Homo sapiens: one gene and its partners. The protein of the gene in region 3 purifies or fractionates together with the protein of the main gene of each other region. This does not show direct contact. Each region holds a gene or a part of one and is shown on either strand. Other genes may lie near its edges. The genes, in order: USP44, CACYBP and TBL1X.

The links.
Region 1: the proteins of TBL1X (region 3) and USP44 purify together in Homo sapiens (affinity purification with mass spectrometry; 2 studies listed by BioGRID, with this or other methods). This does not show direct contact.
Region 2: the proteins of TBL1X (region 3) and CACYBP purify together in Homo sapiens (affinity purification with western blotting; 2 studies listed by BioGRID, with this or other methods). This does not show direct contact.

Annotation. Positions count from the first base shown.
Region 1 is NC_000012.12:95,548,427-95,556,385, forward strand, and holds the start of USP44 (ubiquitin carboxyl-terminal hydrolase 44), read right to left. Parts: upstream 3,051-7,959; 5' UTR 2,846-3,050; intron 1,928-2,845; exon of another isoform or gene 626-1,927; intron 377-625; exon of another isoform or gene 100-376; intron 1-99.
Region 2 is NC_000001.11:175,009,825-175,012,529, reverse strand, and holds the end of CACYBP (calcyclin-binding protein), read right to left. Parts: intron 2,608-2,705; coding exon 2,451-2,607; 3' UTR 503-2,450; downstream 1-502. UniProt on the Homo sapiens protein: May be involved in calcium-dependent ubiquitination and subsequent proteasomal degradation of target proteins. Probably serves as a molecular bridge in ubiquitin E3 complexes. Participates in the ubiquitin-mediated degradation of beta-catenin (CTNNB1).
Region 3 is NC_000023.11:9,713,055-9,720,178, forward strand, and holds the end of TBL1X (F-box-like/WD repeat-containing protein TBL1X), read left to right. Parts: intron 1-1,847; coding exon 1,848-1,949; intron 1,950-3,165; coding exon 3,166-3,192; 3' UTR 3,193-6,686; downstream 6,687-7,124. UniProt on the Homo sapiens protein: F-box-like protein involved in the recruitment of the ubiquitin/19S proteasome complex to nuclear receptor-regulated transcription units. Plays an essential role in transcription activation mediated by nuclear receptors.

The DNA of each region.
Region 1 (7,959 bases), on a different chromosome or scaffold from region 3:
CCCCCAGCTCGCCCCCTCCAGCCCGCTGCGCCTTGCCGCAGCATCTCCGGGCACTCTGAGGCTGCCGCCGGGACAGGGTCGGAGCGCCGCAGAACCCACCGAAACTTCCCAGGGGGGCAATTCAAAATTCGCCGGACGCGTCGCCGCCGCGCGCCCCTCGGCTCATTCCCTTCCGCGCGCCCGCAGCCCCAGGCTCTCCCTCTCTCAGGACCCCCCAGCGCCCTGCGCGGCGAGAATAGGCCCCCAGGTGCCTCCCGGCCCCGGGGGCTGCCGTCGCACGTCCGCTCCCGCAGGGGTCCTCACTCCGCCAATCGCCGCGGCCGCGCGCCCTCGCGCACACTCACCAGCCCGAGCCGGGGCGGCCATCTTAGCGCTCACCCCGGCCCCCCGCCCCCCGGTTCGGCGGCCGCGACGACCCGGTGCGGCGGCTACGACAGCCGTGACGCGCAGCAGGCCCCGCCCCCTCCCACAGCCCCACCCCTGCGCCGGCTCTTCGCGGGCACCGAGAACCTGCCGGTGGCCGCCTTCCGCGCCTCGTGGGGGGGTCGGGGCCACGGACGGTCCCCGGCGCCGCAAGTGGGTCTGCGCGAACAACAAGCACTGCCTCCCCGGGCGGGCTTCGCACCTGTAGTGCCGTCGGGACACGGGAGGGTAAACCCAGCGTGTCCTGTGTGCCTGTGAGCCGCAGAATCATCCACGGACGTCGTTAGTCCTTCCTGGAATTTCTGCGATTTACACAACGTCGAATTGTTTGGCAGAAACGCGTGGCAAACTCCGTTATCTTTAAAACCTTCCCCAATTCACTGGCATAGAAATTCTTAAAGAAAACGTTTCCTTCTTGAAGCGACCCCTGGGTGTAACTTCAGTGGCGATGACGGCTGTGAATTGGGTTTTTTCGCACCGCAGAAGGGCGAGAGAGGTTCCAGAACGGGCACAGGAAGGGAACCGCTATCTAGAACTGCCTAACCCGAAATTGCCCATTTAAATAATGAAGTACATACCGAAAAGGAAAAGGAGGGGAAATCTGGAAAACAGGAAAGTCAAGGCTAAGGTACCTGAAAATTAACCCATTAATATTTATTGGATTCTTTGTGTTCAACTCTGAGCCAGATTGTTGTTTTTAACTGAACCTATACTCAATGACAAAGCAGTTCTACTTTGGCCACCCTGTGGAGTGTACTGAAAATTTAAAAACTCTCCAAGGAGAGCTTAAAAAGAAGACAAACATGCAAAGTTAACAATACATCAATGCAGTGCAAAATCTTGCAATATGTAAGACAAGGTATAAAATTGTTCCTATCTTTTCATCATCAGTTTTATTCTGGGGAGTATGTTTCAGTGGTATGACCTGAATAAAGAAATGAGTGCACAAAGGTATTCACAGCATATTATCCAAACACCGTAAAAGGCAAGAAGGAGCGGCACAGGATTCTAACTAACAGGAAATGGCTAATTAAGGTCTGACATAGAGGCCGGGCGCAGTGGCTCACGCCTGTAATCACAGCACTTTGGGAGGCCAAGGCGGGTGGATCACCTGAGGTCAGGAGTTCGAGAGCAGCCTGGCCAACATAGTGAAACCCTGTCTCTACTAAAAATACAAAAATTATCCGGGCCTGGTGGCGGGCACCTGTAATCCCAGCTACTCGGTAGGCTGAGACAGGACAATCGCTTGAACCCAGGAGGCGGAGGTTGTGGTGAGCCTAGATCCACAATTGCACTCAAGCCTGGGCAGCAACAAGAGCGAAACTCCGTCTCAGAAAAAAAAAAAAAAAAAAAAAATCTGATATAACACAGGAAGTTCTTATGTTAACAAAATAGATACAAAATAGCAACAATGTCTAATCAATTCATGTTTGAAAAAAATACCAAATATGTACATTAAGGTTACAACTGCATAAAATGTAGTCATGCAAATAAAGATTAAAGGGATGAATTTGCATAGTTTAATACTCATTTTGTTCTTTTTTCTATATATTTAAGTGCATAATAATTCTGATTCAATAATGACCCCAGTGCACTTCTCCCACTCAAAACATCTAACCTCTATGTTGTACTTTTGCCCACCACCTGAATTTCTCAAATGCATTAAAAGCATTACATGAGGGCATCTCTTAAGATGAAATATTTAAAATTTAAGTATTTCTGGCATGCAATATGGTTTTTCCTGTAATTCCTTGAAAGCAAAATATTAATAATAGAAAAATCAAAACTCTTGCTTTCCTATTATAATGCCATAAAACCATTCTGGAAGGTCGTTTGGGAGATAGGAAGAGTCTTAGTTGCCTCCCTCTGATCTAGTAATTGGGCGGGGTCTTTTAAGGACTAAAATGATGTGAATAAATGAAGAGAAAAAGTGAAATGGGAAGAAAAGCAAAGGCAAGCTGTGTAAGGCATAGGTGGAGAGTGCTGAATAGTGTCTTCAATAAAATGCCTTAATACAATGATGTAAGCTAGGAAGAGGTGCGGAGTGGGAAGGGAAGAGGCTGGAGACAAATTCTCATTACTAGTGTTAGTAATTAAAGAGCAGATGTTTGTAGTTTAGCTTTTTCTTCATACTTATTACTACTTATTCAACTTTGAAATTTCCTCAGCTACCATTTTATTCATGATCTTCACTATCTAGGCCTAAATTATAGCATGCTCTAGCTCATTTCCTGAGCTCCAGAACCTCTCTATTGCAATTTTATTTTTACATAGCAATCATAGTCATTCTTCTCCTTAAATTTTCCTATTTGTTTTTTAACCCGTCTCATCGAATCTAAGCTTTTTACTGTAACATTAAAAAAAAGAAAAGAAAAAAGCCTCCTTCCCTGCCCACCTTCATCAATGATGTCCCCAAACTTACCTATTAAAACCTCAAAATCAGTCTTTCCCCAGGTCGGCCTTTGGATAACTCAGAGGTCAGTCCCTGCAGGATCGCCCAGTTTCCATCAGGGCAAATGCTGATCTCCTAAGTGAAAAGTCCTGGCGGCTGCCTCCAGTGCCCCCCTGCAAATCATTACAAATCAACCTCTTTCAGGTTTGGCTTAAACTCTCACCTCCTGGAAACTGCTTTCCTGAAGTCACAAACCGGGCGTGCAGATCCCCATCCCCCACCCCCAGCAGTGCATTATTATGCAGTCACTGCTTTTGTTCCGAGTTCTGAGCCTGCTTCTATTTGCATCGTAACCTCTTTGGGGGCCGGGACTGTGCACTTGCTCCCTTTCTATACCTCTCCACAGTTCCTAGTACCGGCCAAAAACACTGCTGAAATGCCTAATGAATCAACCAGAAGTTCCTTAGCATAATATAGGAGCGTGGAAGTGATGTTTAGGGGGGCTTCCCTTGCTTCCCTGATCCCCAGATGGAGAGAAATGGCAATTTGCCCTTCCAAGGTAAGCAGTTTCCTAAACCAGATAAAATTTTAACGATTCTGAAACCTAATGGATGTGTAACTACTCAATTCTGAGTTACTACACAAACAGTTTTGCCCTTTGTATCCTGAGAGAAAAGTACGAATGAATTAAAAGAAGACAAAACATTGTAAATTTCATAAACCTCAGAGTGGCTTTTTATGCTTTATGTCGATTTTTAGAATTTCCTAGTCCAGTCTTTCATGAATCGAAGAATATTTCAGGAATCATAATTGCAGACTAAAGAATTTATGAGCTTGTGAAATTTTAGGAATCACTTTTAAGACTTTTCAGAGTTTTACAGACAATGCTCTTACCTAATAACTAATATTCGCTTAACATTTTTTTCAACACCTAAATGCCTGGCACCATGCTAAGCATTGAGATATTCATAGCATTCATTTCAATGGTTATGAGGAGATGAAGGATTGAGCAGAGGAAGTGGGTAAAGAAACGCTAAATAACTCAGCCATAAACTTTTGATTAAGGTGTAGCAACACACTTCAGTTGAACTTTTTAAATGAGAGGAACCCAAACGACCTTAAATTTCTGGCAAATATGAAAGAAAGGAGTTGAGAAAAAAGGAGTATGGAAAAAAGAGCAGCAGATGTAAGCTATGGCCTTAGTGGAGGAAAGTGAGTAGAAGGGGCTTTAGAATTCGCCTTTTTTCTTTAATTCTAAGAATGAGGTTGGTAGCAGGTAAGGAAGGTAAATGCCAGCTGAGTAGATGGTACCAAAGTTGATTTGTTTTTAAAAGACCATTGTTTATTTGGTGGTCTGTCAGGGAAACTTGTACCTTGCAGGTGAATTTCCAACATAGGCCTACTGGAAACTGAAACCCTGAGCCCCAGGGTTTAGGTATAAATGGAAGCAAAATTGTGAAGTGAGTCCATTTCTCCCCCTTTTTAAACATAAACATCCACTCCACCTCCACCCTATACTCAGTTTTTCTTTTCTTTTCTTTTCTTTTTTTTTTTTTTTTTGAGACAGAGTCTCGCTCTGTCACCCAGGTTGGAGTGCCGTGGCGTGATCTCGGCTCACTGCAACCTCCGCCTCCCGGGTTCAAGCAGTTCCCCTGCCTCAGCCTCCTGAGTACCTGGGATTACAGGTATGCACCACCACGCCTGGTTAATTTTTGTATTTTTAGTAGAGACGGGGTTTCACCATGTTGGTCAGGCTGGTCTCCAACTCCTGACCTCGTGATCTGCCCGCCTCGGCCTCCCCAGGTGCTGGGATTACAGGCGTGAGCCACCACGCCTGGCCCACTCTATACTCACTTTTACAGGGATCCTCAGGATGCTGTGTCCAGGGCTTTACTGCAGTCTGTCTCTCTTCCTTCCCATCAAAACTCTTCCCATTTTGTTCAGGACAGGTACACCAACCTTTCATTCTCTCTTTTTATTTATTTTTAAAATGGAGACAGGGTTTTGTCACCAGGCTGGAGTGCAGTAGCGTGATCATGGCTCACTGCAGCCTTGACCTCTCAGGCTCAAGCAATCTTCCCACCTCAGCTTCCTGTGTAACTGGGACCACAGGCATGCGACACAACTTCTGCTAATTGATTTTTTGTAGAGATGTGGGGGTGGAGGGGGGTTCTCCCTATGCTACCCAGGCTGGTCTCAAACTCCTGGCCTCAAGCAATCCTTGTGCCCCGGCCTCCCAAAGTGCTGGGGTTACGAGCATGAGCCACCATGCCTGGCCCCAACCTGTCATTATCTAAGGAGCTCAGTTATGAAGTAAAGTTATCTACTTTGTATTATTAGTGTTTAGTATTTTTTTTTCCATTTCTCTCTCAGACTGTTCTACCTCCTGTAGACACCCAGAGTTTGGAATTTCTAAAATGACATTTTAAACATTGTGACAGATCAGTGGGATAGATATTTTGCTAAGCCAAGGTACTTCCTTTCCAAGGATAAGCTATGGGAGGTGATGACAGCAGAATACACACACACACACACACACACAATACACGCAGACACACATATATATACTCATATGCACATATATAATTAGAACTCATTTAGCTATAATAACAATTTGTCCATCTAGTTATTTGCAATCCTTTCAGGATTTTTAAAATTTCTATCTCATTTGTAGAGTTTGGAAAATAGTATCTGTCCTATCTTCTTCACAATAATGTTTTAAGGACCAAATGAGGTTTTGTCCATGGAACCTGCCTAAACTGTAAGGAGAAAAGTCAGTGTGTTTATCATTATTTCTCTCTTAGGTTTACTATTACCCTGTAAAGTTCTTTGAAGTCAGAAACAGACTTTTGTTCATATTTACAACCCCTATAGCAATTAATACAGAACCTCACTCAGGATAGATAAGCAGTATTCCCTTAAATCAAGTTTTACTTCTGTACTAAAGTAATAGTCAATTCAAGGACAAGTGCTATAAAGGTTAAAATTAATTCTATTACTCTGAGAAACATGGCAATACTATTTTAGTCTTCCTCTCTCATAGTAGGGAGGGAAAGGATCTGGAAAGGCAGAGGGAGAGAGGGGGAGAAAAGAAAAGGCACTACAGGTGGAAATTTCAACTCTTAAAGTTTTAGTAAACCATGCCAAAAAGATACTAGTAACTTTTCATGAGGAAGAGATTATTGGGGTACCCAAGTTTTGTTTTTATACTCTATACATGTTTTTAAACCCATTTCTTTTTTTTAAAAAAAAATAATAGAATGAGGAAAGTGTAGATGGATAACTGTAGCTATTTGTATAATTATTTACATCTTGCCAAACCATTTGGAAATTGAAATCCTGCAGTGTCGCTCCTGGGTTGTAAAAGATAAGAAAAGTAAATAGAAGGCCCCCTTAATACAACGTGATATTGCATCATTTAAAAGAAACCACAAACTGTCTATTCAGGATGTATGCATACAATAAAAAGAGCTAACAATTCTTCATGTGTAAGAGCTAGGATGATCAACCTGCTTTTCTCTGCCATCTTAAGGTTGCTTCTTTTTAGGCCAAGGTACCTCGTGGTAGCAATCATTGATTTAGTCATCTGTAAATAGTGTTTGTAAGCCTCTTTTCCTTAGCTAACCAGTGATTAACTCCTAGAAAAACCACATTTTTTTTCCTGCCACCCAGGAGTGCAGTGGCGTGATCTCAGCTCACTGCAGCCTTGACCTACCAGGCTCAAGCAATCCTCACACCTGTGCCTCCCAAGTAGCTGGGACTACAGGCACATGCCACTACACCCAGCTAATTTTTGTATTTTTTGTAGAGATGGGGTTTCACTATGTTGTCCAGGCTGGTCTTGGACTCTTGAGCTCAAATGATCCACCCACCTGGACTTCCCAAAGTGCTGGGATTACAGGTGTGAGCCACTGCACCCAGCCTTGAAAACCACATTTCTGAGGGAAACTCTTTGGGGGAAGGGAGGTTGTGTGTAAGTTAGATAGTCCCTATCTATTTCATTTTATTTTTGGTTTTGAAATTAGTGTTTAAAGAATTAAGCATAATGAATACTTGATATTAATTTCTTGGATGTTTTTTGAGATGGAGTCTCACTCTTGTCACCCAGGCTGGAGTGCAATGACACAATCTCGGCTCACTGCAACCTTCGCCTCCTGGGTTCACGTGATTCTCCTGCCTCAGCCTCCTGAGTAGCTGAGATTACAGGCACCTGCCACCACACCCGGCTAATTTTTTTATTTTTAGTAGAGACGGGGTTTCACCATGTTGGCCAGACTGGTCGCAAACTCCTGACCTCAGGTGATTCACCCGCCTCGGCCTCCCAAAGTGCTGGAATTATAGGTGTGAGCCACTGTGTCTGGTCCTTGGATTTTTTTAAATGTCCTAAATATGCGGCTCCTAATCTTTAGAAAAATAATGAAGGATGAGCCAAGCATTGTAGGGGGGGGAAAAAAAGCTTGAAATATGACATGTAATGGGATGTTTTTCACAAGTATAAAGTTTTATTTTGTCTGTTTGGATGAAAACTCCAAAATGCCACAGGAATGATCACAGAAGGAAATTTATATAAATTTACCATTAAATGCCTATGAAATAATCTCTTCTTAAAAATCAATGGTAGTAATAAAGGATGACTTAAACATTTATTTGCTTATGCCCATAACATTGTATTAAATTTAAGATAAAAGAGCCGGGTGCAGTGGCTCACGCCTGTAATCCCAGCACTTTGGGAGGCTGAGGAAGGTGGATCACCTGAGGTCAGGAGTTCCAGACAAGCCTGGCCAACCTGGCGAAACACCGTCTCTACTAAAAATACAAAAATTAGCTGGGTGTGGTGGTGGGTGCTTGTAATCCCAGCTACTCGGAAGGCTGAGACAGGAAAATCACTTGAACCTGGGAGGCAGAGGTTGCAGTGAGCCGAGATCATGCTACTGTACTCCAGCCTGGGCGACAAGAGCAAAACTCTGTCTCAAAAAAAAAAAAAATTTTTTTAAGACAAAAATGTGGTCTTATCATTAGTCACAAAATTAAACTGTGTAAGACAATTATAATTCTGACTAGCCTCATAGTGAATAATTTTCCCCTTATTGTTTTGTTAAATATCAGTCTACAGGTAATTAAGACTAGACTTATTCCTACAAGAG
Region 2 (2,705 bases), on a different chromosome or scaffold from region 3:
TGCTAACAATTTTTATTAGCTTTGGGTTTACTCGTTTCTTTTTGAAACATAAGCAAATACACCTATGTGCATACATTCACATTTCTCACCCTTTCTTACACAAATGTAGTGGGTATACCATAAATGTTCTGCACTTTGCTTTTCCACTTACTCTATCCTGGAGACCATTTTACGTTATATAGAACTCTTCATTGTTTTGTGACTTAAGTACTCCCTCATGTGGATGCACCATAATACATTCCTGTTAAATAGACACGAGTATTTTTAATCTTTTGCATATAGCATTCCAAATTTTTCTAAATGTACCTTTCAGAGCCCAGAAAGAAGTTAAAATTCTGGGTCAAAGGATAAATGAATATGTCATTCTGATGGTTATTACCAAATACTCTTTCTGAGACAAGAGTCTTACTCTGTCACCCAGGCTGGAGTGCAGTGGCACAATCTCAGCTCACTGCAACCTCTGCCTCCCGGGTTCCAGTGATTCTCGTCCCTCGGCTTCCCAGGTTCAAGTGATTCTTGTCCTTCAGTCTCCCGAGTAGCTGGAGTTACAGGCATCTGCCACCATGCCCAGCTAGTTTTTTTTATTTTCAGTAGAGACAGGGTTTCACCATGTTGGCCAGATGGTCTTGAACTCCTGACCTCAAGTGATCCGCCCACCTTGGCCTCCCAAGGTGTTGGGATTACAGGTGTGAGCCACTGCACCTGCCCAAATATTCTTGTTAACCAAAGTTTAACTTTTGCATTCCATTCCCATATATGTGTCCTTATTTCTCCACAGCCTCAACTCAATACAGTTGTTTTTATACTTCTTTTTCAAGTGAAAGGTAAAAACACTGGTTTATTCTCTTCTGAACAAGGTGAGCATCTTTACATGTTAAAGGTCATTTACATTTCTTTTTGTATGAAGTATTCTTAATTATTGGAATCCTGTCAATACATTGTTTGCCTTGGGTTATGGTGGGGTTTTTCTTGTCCTATAAACATTTTTATGTAGTTAAAATTGATCAATAGTTTTATTTATTTCTTCTAGGTTTTAAGTCACATATAATGTCGTTTTCCTCCATTTTCTTCTAGTATTTGTATGCTTTACTTTTTACAATTAGATCGTCAGGCGGCTTGGAATATATCTATATGCCTATTTTCAGTTATCTTAGTATCATTAAAAACCCATCTTTACCCCACTTTTACCATATTCTGTAACTTTCATATGCATTGTGTCTGCTATTCTGTTCATGTGTCAACCCCAATTACAGAGGCATAATGTGTTTCAGTATTTACTTATAGCTATCCTATACATAAACTGTTTCTGTATTTTAAATCCTACCACTTCTTCCAAATTCCCATATTAATTGTAGCTTTAGTTTAGTTTACCCTTCTGGATTTTTCCTGTGTGTCTAACGGCTTTTTTTTTTTTTTTTTTTTTAATGAGACAGGTTCTCAATCTGTTACCCAAGCTGCAGTACAGTGGCATCATCATAGCTCACTGCAGCCTTAAACTCCTGGGCTGAAGTGATCCTCCAGCCTTAGTAGCTGGGATTACGGGCGCCAGCCTTCATGCCTGGCTTCAATTGCTTTCTCTGATCTAACTGTGTTGGCTAATACCTCCAGGAAAATAAAGTAATGGAGATCACAGGCACTGGTCCTGACTTCAGGGGGAATAGGAGTAATTCCTACTAAAAGCCTGATTTTTCTGACATACTCCTAGACAAATAAATCATAAAACTGTTCTAATGAAGAAAAACTTAACTTTATTGAGCATAGGAATAGACGGGCTTTCAAATTATTTTTTGCTTTATGGTTATTACTTTTATAAACCATCTGATCCACGGCAAAACTAACTGGTACCATACAAAGATATGTCTATTATTGTCATGTTTAGATTTTCTATTCCACATTCATTGACAAATATATTTAAATCTAGATAGAAACACCTGTGATTGAATTAGTGCATGGTAATGCATGGCATATACATTGCTTAAGGTGGTAATAAGGGGTCAGATGCTCTACAGCAACCTTCAAGCACAGGCACCGATTTGCATTTTATGCAAAACTTCAGGTTTTACTCAATTTTTACACTGGTGGAAGCTGATGTCAGTAACTTAAAAGGCAAGCAAATACTTTTCCAATTCTTAGCTGAACAAAAAATACACACAATGTAGCGTTTTTATTGGGCAAGACTTGCTTTTTATATTTCACGTGAGAATGCAATATAACCCTTCCTTGAACAAAATGACCAGGGTACTAATAAAACCATCTTTGCAGGAGTGTTTAATAAGCATATTTTATTTAAATAAATCCTCCAGTAGGAAATGGAGAATTCATTGCCTTTACTTAGAAGGCTATGTAAATAGCTATCTGTCAAATTTATATATGCAGCTCACCAATATTCCCTTACTGGAAACATCAGTATTTCCACATCACATCACAGTTCCCAAAACGACTTTAAAGTCTCAAAATTCCGTGTCTCCTTTGGCTTGCTTCTCTCTTGATTCCACCCAGGCTTTATTAATGGTTCGCTTCATATCATCGTCTCCATCTTCATAAATTTTCTTTAGAACATTCATCAATCCCTCACTAGGATCTGTTTCAGTGTCATAGGAGGGCTTCCTTTAAAAAGAAAACATATACAACAATGGGGAAACGAAAGCACCGGAAGATACTATCATTCAGGTTGTTAACACTGGCAGGAAGTAGAGGGATAAGAA
Region 3 (7,124 bases):
GTGGACTCAATGGTGATGAGCCCTGTTCACTGGCAAGGGGTCCACTGAGATCACAGGCTTCCCAGGGACCTCATGTGAACCACATCCTCTCAGGGAAGGAAGGGAAATGGTGGACCCTGCGTAGAGCCAACCCGACGCCAAGCCCAGCCCCACAGCCCTAGATAGCTCTCCGGGAAGCACGCATCTCAGCACTAGTGTCCAAGAGTCTCCGTTCCTGAAATCCTCGCTAGAAATAGTAATGGGTGGATTTGTAAAAAGAACACATCAATTATCAAAACAATGACATGATCAGTTAGGTACAGCCTGTTGTCAGGAACTCACTGAACTGTTTCAACCCTTTTTTATAAATCAAAGAAATCCTTAGGACTTTTCTTTTTTTTTTTTTTTTTTGGATCGGAGTTTCACTCTCGTCACCCAGGCTGGAGTACAGTGATGCCATCTCGGCCCACTGCGACCTCTGCCTCCCGGGTTTGAGCGATTCTCCTGCCTCAGCCTCCCGAGTAGCTGGGATTACAGGTGCGCACCACCACAGCCGGCTAACTTTTGTATTTTTAGTACAAACGGGGTCTCACCATGTTGGCCAGGCTGGTGTTGAACTCCTGACCCCAGGCAATCTACCCACCTCGGCCTCCCAAAGTGCTGGGATTACAGGCATGAGCCACCGCGCCCGGCCAAGAAATCCTTAGGAATTTTCTTAAGAGAAATCTTAAAGCCCACTTTAATCTTTCTCCAAGTATAAAAATACTTATCTGTAATACTGCCGACACACACCTTTCTCAGTTCATGGAACACCACCCTTTAAGGGGCCCAATTGAGCAGAGGATTTGGGACAGCCCTCCTGGTCTCGGTGTTCAGATTTCTCCTGCCTGTCACCATAGTGAATCATGAGTGAAGGCTTATTCGACTCTTTCTCTCTTTTTTATTTTTTAAAATTAATTTTTGTAGAGACGAAGTCTCACTGTGTTGCCCAGGCTAGTCTTGAACTCTTGGGCTCAATCCGTCCTCCCGCCTCGGCCTCCCAAAGTGCTGGGATTACAGGGTGAGCCACCTCGCCTGGCCTTATTCAACTCTTTCAAAGGCCTCAACTTCCCCTACCTCTTAGATTTGTCAAGTTAATGCTGTTTTAAACCGGAAACCAATGGTCTGTGGTGTTTTCCATTACATGTATATTATGCATTTCTTCTTTCAAATGTCCAAAAATACGTACATTTTAATGTCATGGCATATTATTACATTTAATCATGAATTACAGTCAATTTAATTGCTACTGGGGTGGGTGTATTCATTATGTTGTATTCATTCAGGTCCTCCAAAGAACAGACACCAGAACAGGATTAGATGGGCGAGAGATTTATTGGGGGAAAGAGCTGTGATGGAAACAGGGAGGAAGGTAGGGGGAAGGGAGAATTCAGACCATAAGGCCAGTCTGACCCTGGGAAGGAGACGGGAAGGGTAGGAAGAGTCAGGGATGGCCCTTACAGGTCTGTAGAAAGTTTTGGTCGTGCTGATGGAGAGTCCATGAGCCACTTACCCACCAGATGAGTCTGAGTCTCAGCAGGTGACTGCCATGGTCTCCCGCCTCCATCAGTCCTCAGCTGGGTGCAGCCTCAGAATCCACGCAAATGTGGCAGATTCCGCAGGCATAAGTAATCAGGTTCACTCCTCGTGGTGGGAAGTCCTAGAGGCACATCTCCATGGCCCCCAGAGTCCTTACTGAAAACCCTTAAATTTCACCATGCTTGAAAATGTTCATGACGAAACGTCAGGGCCGGAGGAGCGCACATTCCACACCTGCATCTGTCGCAGGCGCCCCTTGCGTTGTAAGTGACAGCTGCTTTGCTTTGCAGAGTGGAAATCTTGTCCACAGCTACCGAGGCACTGGCGGCATCTTCGAGGTGTGCTGGAACGCCCGAGGAGACAAAGTGGGTGCCAGCGCGTCCGACGGCTCTGTAAGCAACACCTCTGGTTTGCTGGGGAGTGGGGTGTTGGGGGCAGCTGATGCCTAAGTGAGCTTCCAGGGCGTGTGCAGCATTCGTGTCCTGAAGGGCCTAGCCCAGTGCCAAAGGAAGCTTCTGGGCTGGATCCCATCGGAGTTGGTACCACATCTGGGAATGGCCTTCTCCTTGTCCCTTCCAGAGTGTCCTTCTAGTCAACATTTTCTCAGTCAAATTGGTGGTTCTCAACCAGGGTGATTCTGCACCTCTAAGGACATTAGACAATATCTGGAGCCATTTTAGGTTGTCACTACAGTCATGTGTCGCTTAATGACGGGAACGTTTTGGGAAATGTGTCATTAGGCACTTTTATCTTTGTCTGAACATCATAGAGTGACTGACACAAACCTAGATGATAATACCTGTCCCACACCGAGGCTGTGTGGTACAGCCTATTGCTCCCAGGCTACAAACCTGGACAGCGGGTGACCATACTGATTCCTGTAGGCAACCAGAACACAATGGTAAGCATTTGTGCGTCCGGATCTATCTAAACATAGAAAAGGTTCAGCAGATATATGGTTATAATCTTACAGGACCACTGCGGTCTGTGCGGTGCGTTGTTGCTGGAAACGTCATTATGTGACGCGTGACTGTGCTTAGATGAGGATGCTGCTAAACCTCCTACTGTGCACAGGGTGGCCACAATTGTCACCCATGCTGTGGCTGAGAAGCCCGGGCCTCTGGTGGCCATCCTGCAGGTCTCCTGGGCCCTCTTCTCTTCCCATGGGGCATCTGGATTTCTTATTTTCCCCTGGACTTGAGGTTGCCCTGACCTCTGGGGCAAGCGGCCGTTCTGGCTGAACGGCCAAGGGTCAGAGTAGTCCCCAAATGTTGTCAGAGGCTGTGTACTTGGGCTCGTATTGTCATCTGCCCCACGATTGCAGGTGTCCCTTCTGGGACCTCTGCCACTCTGTTAATTCCTATCATTACCCTTAACCTGGCCTTTCTGCTCTGTGCTGTTTGCTTCAGTTTGCTCGGTCCGATGTCCAGATGCCAGTCTGTTATGAGAGCTTCTCTGACCCTTCATGACGATGTTCCAATAAACTTTACTGACAAACATCGGTGGAGGGCTAGATTGGGCGTGGGGGCCGTAGCTTGCCGACTTCTCACTCTAAAGGCATCTTTGTATTGTCTCTCAAGATGACAGGTGCTTTATCTTTCCTTCCAGGTGTGTGTTTTGGATCTGCGGAAGTAACCACAAAATATTATCGAAAAAAGAAAAGAATTCTAATGACCAGCCGTGAATGTGTAGGGTTGCAGCTCTATTCTCCAAAACTGTAGGAACTTGACTTGCGTTAGAGTGTACTCTGAAACCAACTCGTCTCTGGCCGCAGGAGTCTATATGTTTTCGTAATCTTCATCAAGAAGTTTTTAAAAGGCAAGCAAAAACAGAAGCAAATCATATCAAACGGGGATAGAATGGTTTCCACTGAGGACATTCAGCCTGGGAAGGAGGAAGTCACCAGCTCGAGGCGTGTGGATTGGTTTCCACCCGGAACAGGCTCTGTGATGGCTGAATGGAAAGAAACGTAAAAAGCTGTGCCAAAAAAAAAGCAAAATGCTGTGATAAACCAAACAGGGAAGGGGGAAAAACCCTCCTCCTTGGGATTTTTTTTTTTTGTTTTCCCTAACAATTTGGACACTACAATTGCTCTCACAAAGGAGGTTCAAAGACCAGTTTGTACCGATGAAACGCGCAACTTTGTAATCCCAACACTTTCTATTTTCTAGAATCTTCTTTGTTCATTGGGTGGTTTTTCAGTCGGCTGGAATTCTATCTTCTGGGGGCCTTCCGTCTGAGATGGAAGCTGTCTTGGGCTTGTTGTCTCTTCCTTCTGTTGCTCCCTGCCCCTCCCCCTGCCTTTCCACTCTGTCTGGTGAGCTCTGCTTTTTCAGTGCACCATCAAGAGATGCAGCCCCGTGGACATGAAGACACAATCTCCCACGGACAGCTTTCCCCCTTCCGCCCTCTCCCACCCTCTCCTCCCCTTGCGCTCGCGCTCGCGCTCGCTTTCTCACTGGCGTGCTCTCTTTCTCTCTCTCTCTCCCTCTGTACCTTTCTCATAGTTGCTTCAGATCTTAGGTCTCAAGGGCACTTTGGCGCGTAGTAAGTGCTTTATGTAAGAAGGCAGGGCAGGGGGGCTTTTTACAGGAGAAAAAAAAATGACTTATAAGAGAAAGAGCCTGGAGTATTTTTGGAAAAAAAAATAATATTTTTATGTTAAAACAATTTTAAAATCTTAAAATGGCCATCAGACATAGAGAGCTTTGTGTGATTCATGTTTTAAAAAGAACCGAAGAAGCCACAGGCAGGGCCTGAGGGAGCCCCTGGCTTTCCCCTCAGCCTCAGGAAAGGTGGTCAGGAAAACTCTGGCTGGACAAGGGTCAGTCTTCGGGGTCAGCAGCGAGATTGCTCTGCAGCCAGTGAGGGAGGTCCCCGCCATGCCGGCTGGAAGAAGAACCTCGCATCTTTTGGTGTGTATGCACCTTGGCAGCCAGCAGGAAAGCAGCGAAGAGCCGCGCGCCCTCTGGCCTCAAGGGAGCATTGGCAGAACCATAAGGTACTGCAGAAGCCGTCGAAACCGACTGCTCGGCTGGATTAGGCGTGTTGGCTACATCTTTCCCACAACCGTATAACGACCGATGGTCATTTCTCCAAGAGCAGGCTTGGCGAGTCCTTGCAGAGCTGACATAGAGGCGCCCGCATGTCACTTAGTCTAACGCTGACAGAAATGAATGCAGAAGGAAGATTTTCAGTCCTGAACGTGAATTATAGAGGTAGAACGTCGCTAATAATTTCTGCCATCTTTATAATTTCTTTGTCTCACAGAAGACTAGGAGAAAGATCTTTTTTAAATAATCTTTTTGCTGTTTTTAAAAAATTAAACAAGGCTTTGTGTTCCTAGAAGAGCTTCATTTCAGTGAATCTGGTGACCTCCATCTGCTTGCTGTCATAACCCGACACGGACTTATTTTTGTCATTAGCAAGGGGGAAAAGGCCAAAGGACAAGGGCCTCTTCTCCCATTGGTTTTCCTGTGGGCAGAAGGGCTGAGGAAGATGGCCCAGCCCGTGGGGGCTGCTGGGTCACCAGCAGTGGGTAGGGTGCAATCTGGTGTGTGTTCCAGCAGTGAGACGGTGTTATTGTGAAGGTGGCATTCATCTGCGGAGCCAAAACCCAGCCATCGGGGAAGGGTCAGGGCTTCTGTGGAACTTGGAACGTGCCAGGACCACCTGCAAAAGCCAGGGTGCGTTGATCATTCTCAGATCATTGATTGGCCTCCACTTGGGTATGTGAATTATTCATGTCCCAGAAGACCAAAAAGTGCTCTGGTTCTGAGATGAGTATTTTATTCGTGTTCTGTTTCCGAAACACTTAGCAAAGAAGGTCACAGTGATGTGGAGTCGCCGCACCCATCTTTGAAGATAGCCAGTGTCCCTGGATGAGGTGATGATTTCCCGTCCCAAGGACTCTGTGAAGTTTAGAGTACAGTTTGTTGGGGTCCAAAAGACACCATCTCTACCCCACCCAAATAAAAATGCACTCATCTCTGTAGAACATCTGCTGTCAAAGGCCAGCCTGTCGTTAGGGCATGGCTTATGCTTGACAAACCAGTAACAACTGTGGGATGGCGATGGTGGGATGTGTCGCAAGCAATTCACTAGACAATCTTCACATGAATGTCGGTAGCCAGGGTCTCTCCCGAGGGATGGCTTTAGTCTTGATGAATGTGAACCATGTCGGAATTGTTAGGTAGAAACCTGGGCTGGGAGGCCTCGGACCCCAGGCTCCATCCCTGGCTTCCCCAGCCTGCGGCCGCAAGCAAAACCAAGCGCGAGATGCAGCTAGCACCCTTCATATCCATCCCCGTTCTCAGCGGGACAACACCATGGACAGCCGTTTTCAGAGCCTCCAGCATTTGCACACCACTACTCACCCTCTCTGCTGCTGGCATGTTGGTAGAGTCATCCCTGTAATCAAGAAATGGCCTGTGGAATGTTATTGTTCAACGTTGTTTACAGCTCTTAAAACATGGTGAGGAATGCCTAAGTCTTAGTGACCAAACGTGACCTTGAAAGCAGACATAGCATGACAGACCTTCCTAGAGTGTTTGGTCGGGTTCACAGTGACCGAGAGTCAGGTCCAGCACACACCTGGGAAAGGGATGCTGCCCCAAGGGGGACCAAAAGGGCCGGACGTTACAGGGTGAAACCCTCTGACCCCTCGCGACACCGTAGGACTTGACTTTTGTTTAGTCTTTCTAAGAAATAGATCATGGAGCCAAGTGAAGTGCACTTTGTCAAATGTAAGGGTCTGCTTTGTTCTTGTTGCTTTTCTGTTTTTTAACCTTTTGTTCCGCCATTTAAAAAAAGAAAAAAAAAAAGCTTATGTTTCTTGTCAAATGCAGAAATGTTCCTTCCGCCACTCACTGAAGTTTTGCATTCTGGCTTGTGCAGTTTTTATTGTCTGTGTCAGACGTACAGCCAGACATGTTCTCTATTGGCATTTTTCCGATTCTGTTCAGATGACAGCGACCGCCTTTTCATTCCCCCCGCCACCTGTACTCACCCTCACGCTCTTTGAAGAAAAAAAAAAAAATCACCTTGTGTGTTGTAGCTCATTTGTTTCAAGAGAGAATCAACAGATCATATTCAGTGTCTTGAATAAATTGCTCTATTTTGATATTAGAGAACTTGGTGGGTGTGCTTTCTTCCTCTCGCTCTGGAACTCTTGGGCCCACGTTGACTGAATGACTGAAGACAGAGCTCTGTATTTTCTCCAGAAGGAAGTACCTTGAGCCTCTGTTTAGGATTGCTGTGTGAGATAGGGAGCTGGGAGCAGAACGCAGTGACATGGCAGTCACAGCAGCCGCCTGCTGTTCTGAAAGGTGGTTCTGTCCAGGGATCATGTTTTTTAGTGTGTTTCCTTTTCATTCTTTATTTCAGGCTGGCTGTTGGAGAAAGACAAAGCAAATGAATGTTCTCTCATCAGCGGATTGGTTGACCGGGAGTTTGAGTTCCCGAATTACCCCCGAGTAATTTGCAGAACCTAACAGGATGGGGTGACTTTGGACATGGACGTCTGCATGGTGCAAACCAACATGTGGCAAACATTTATTGACATTTGC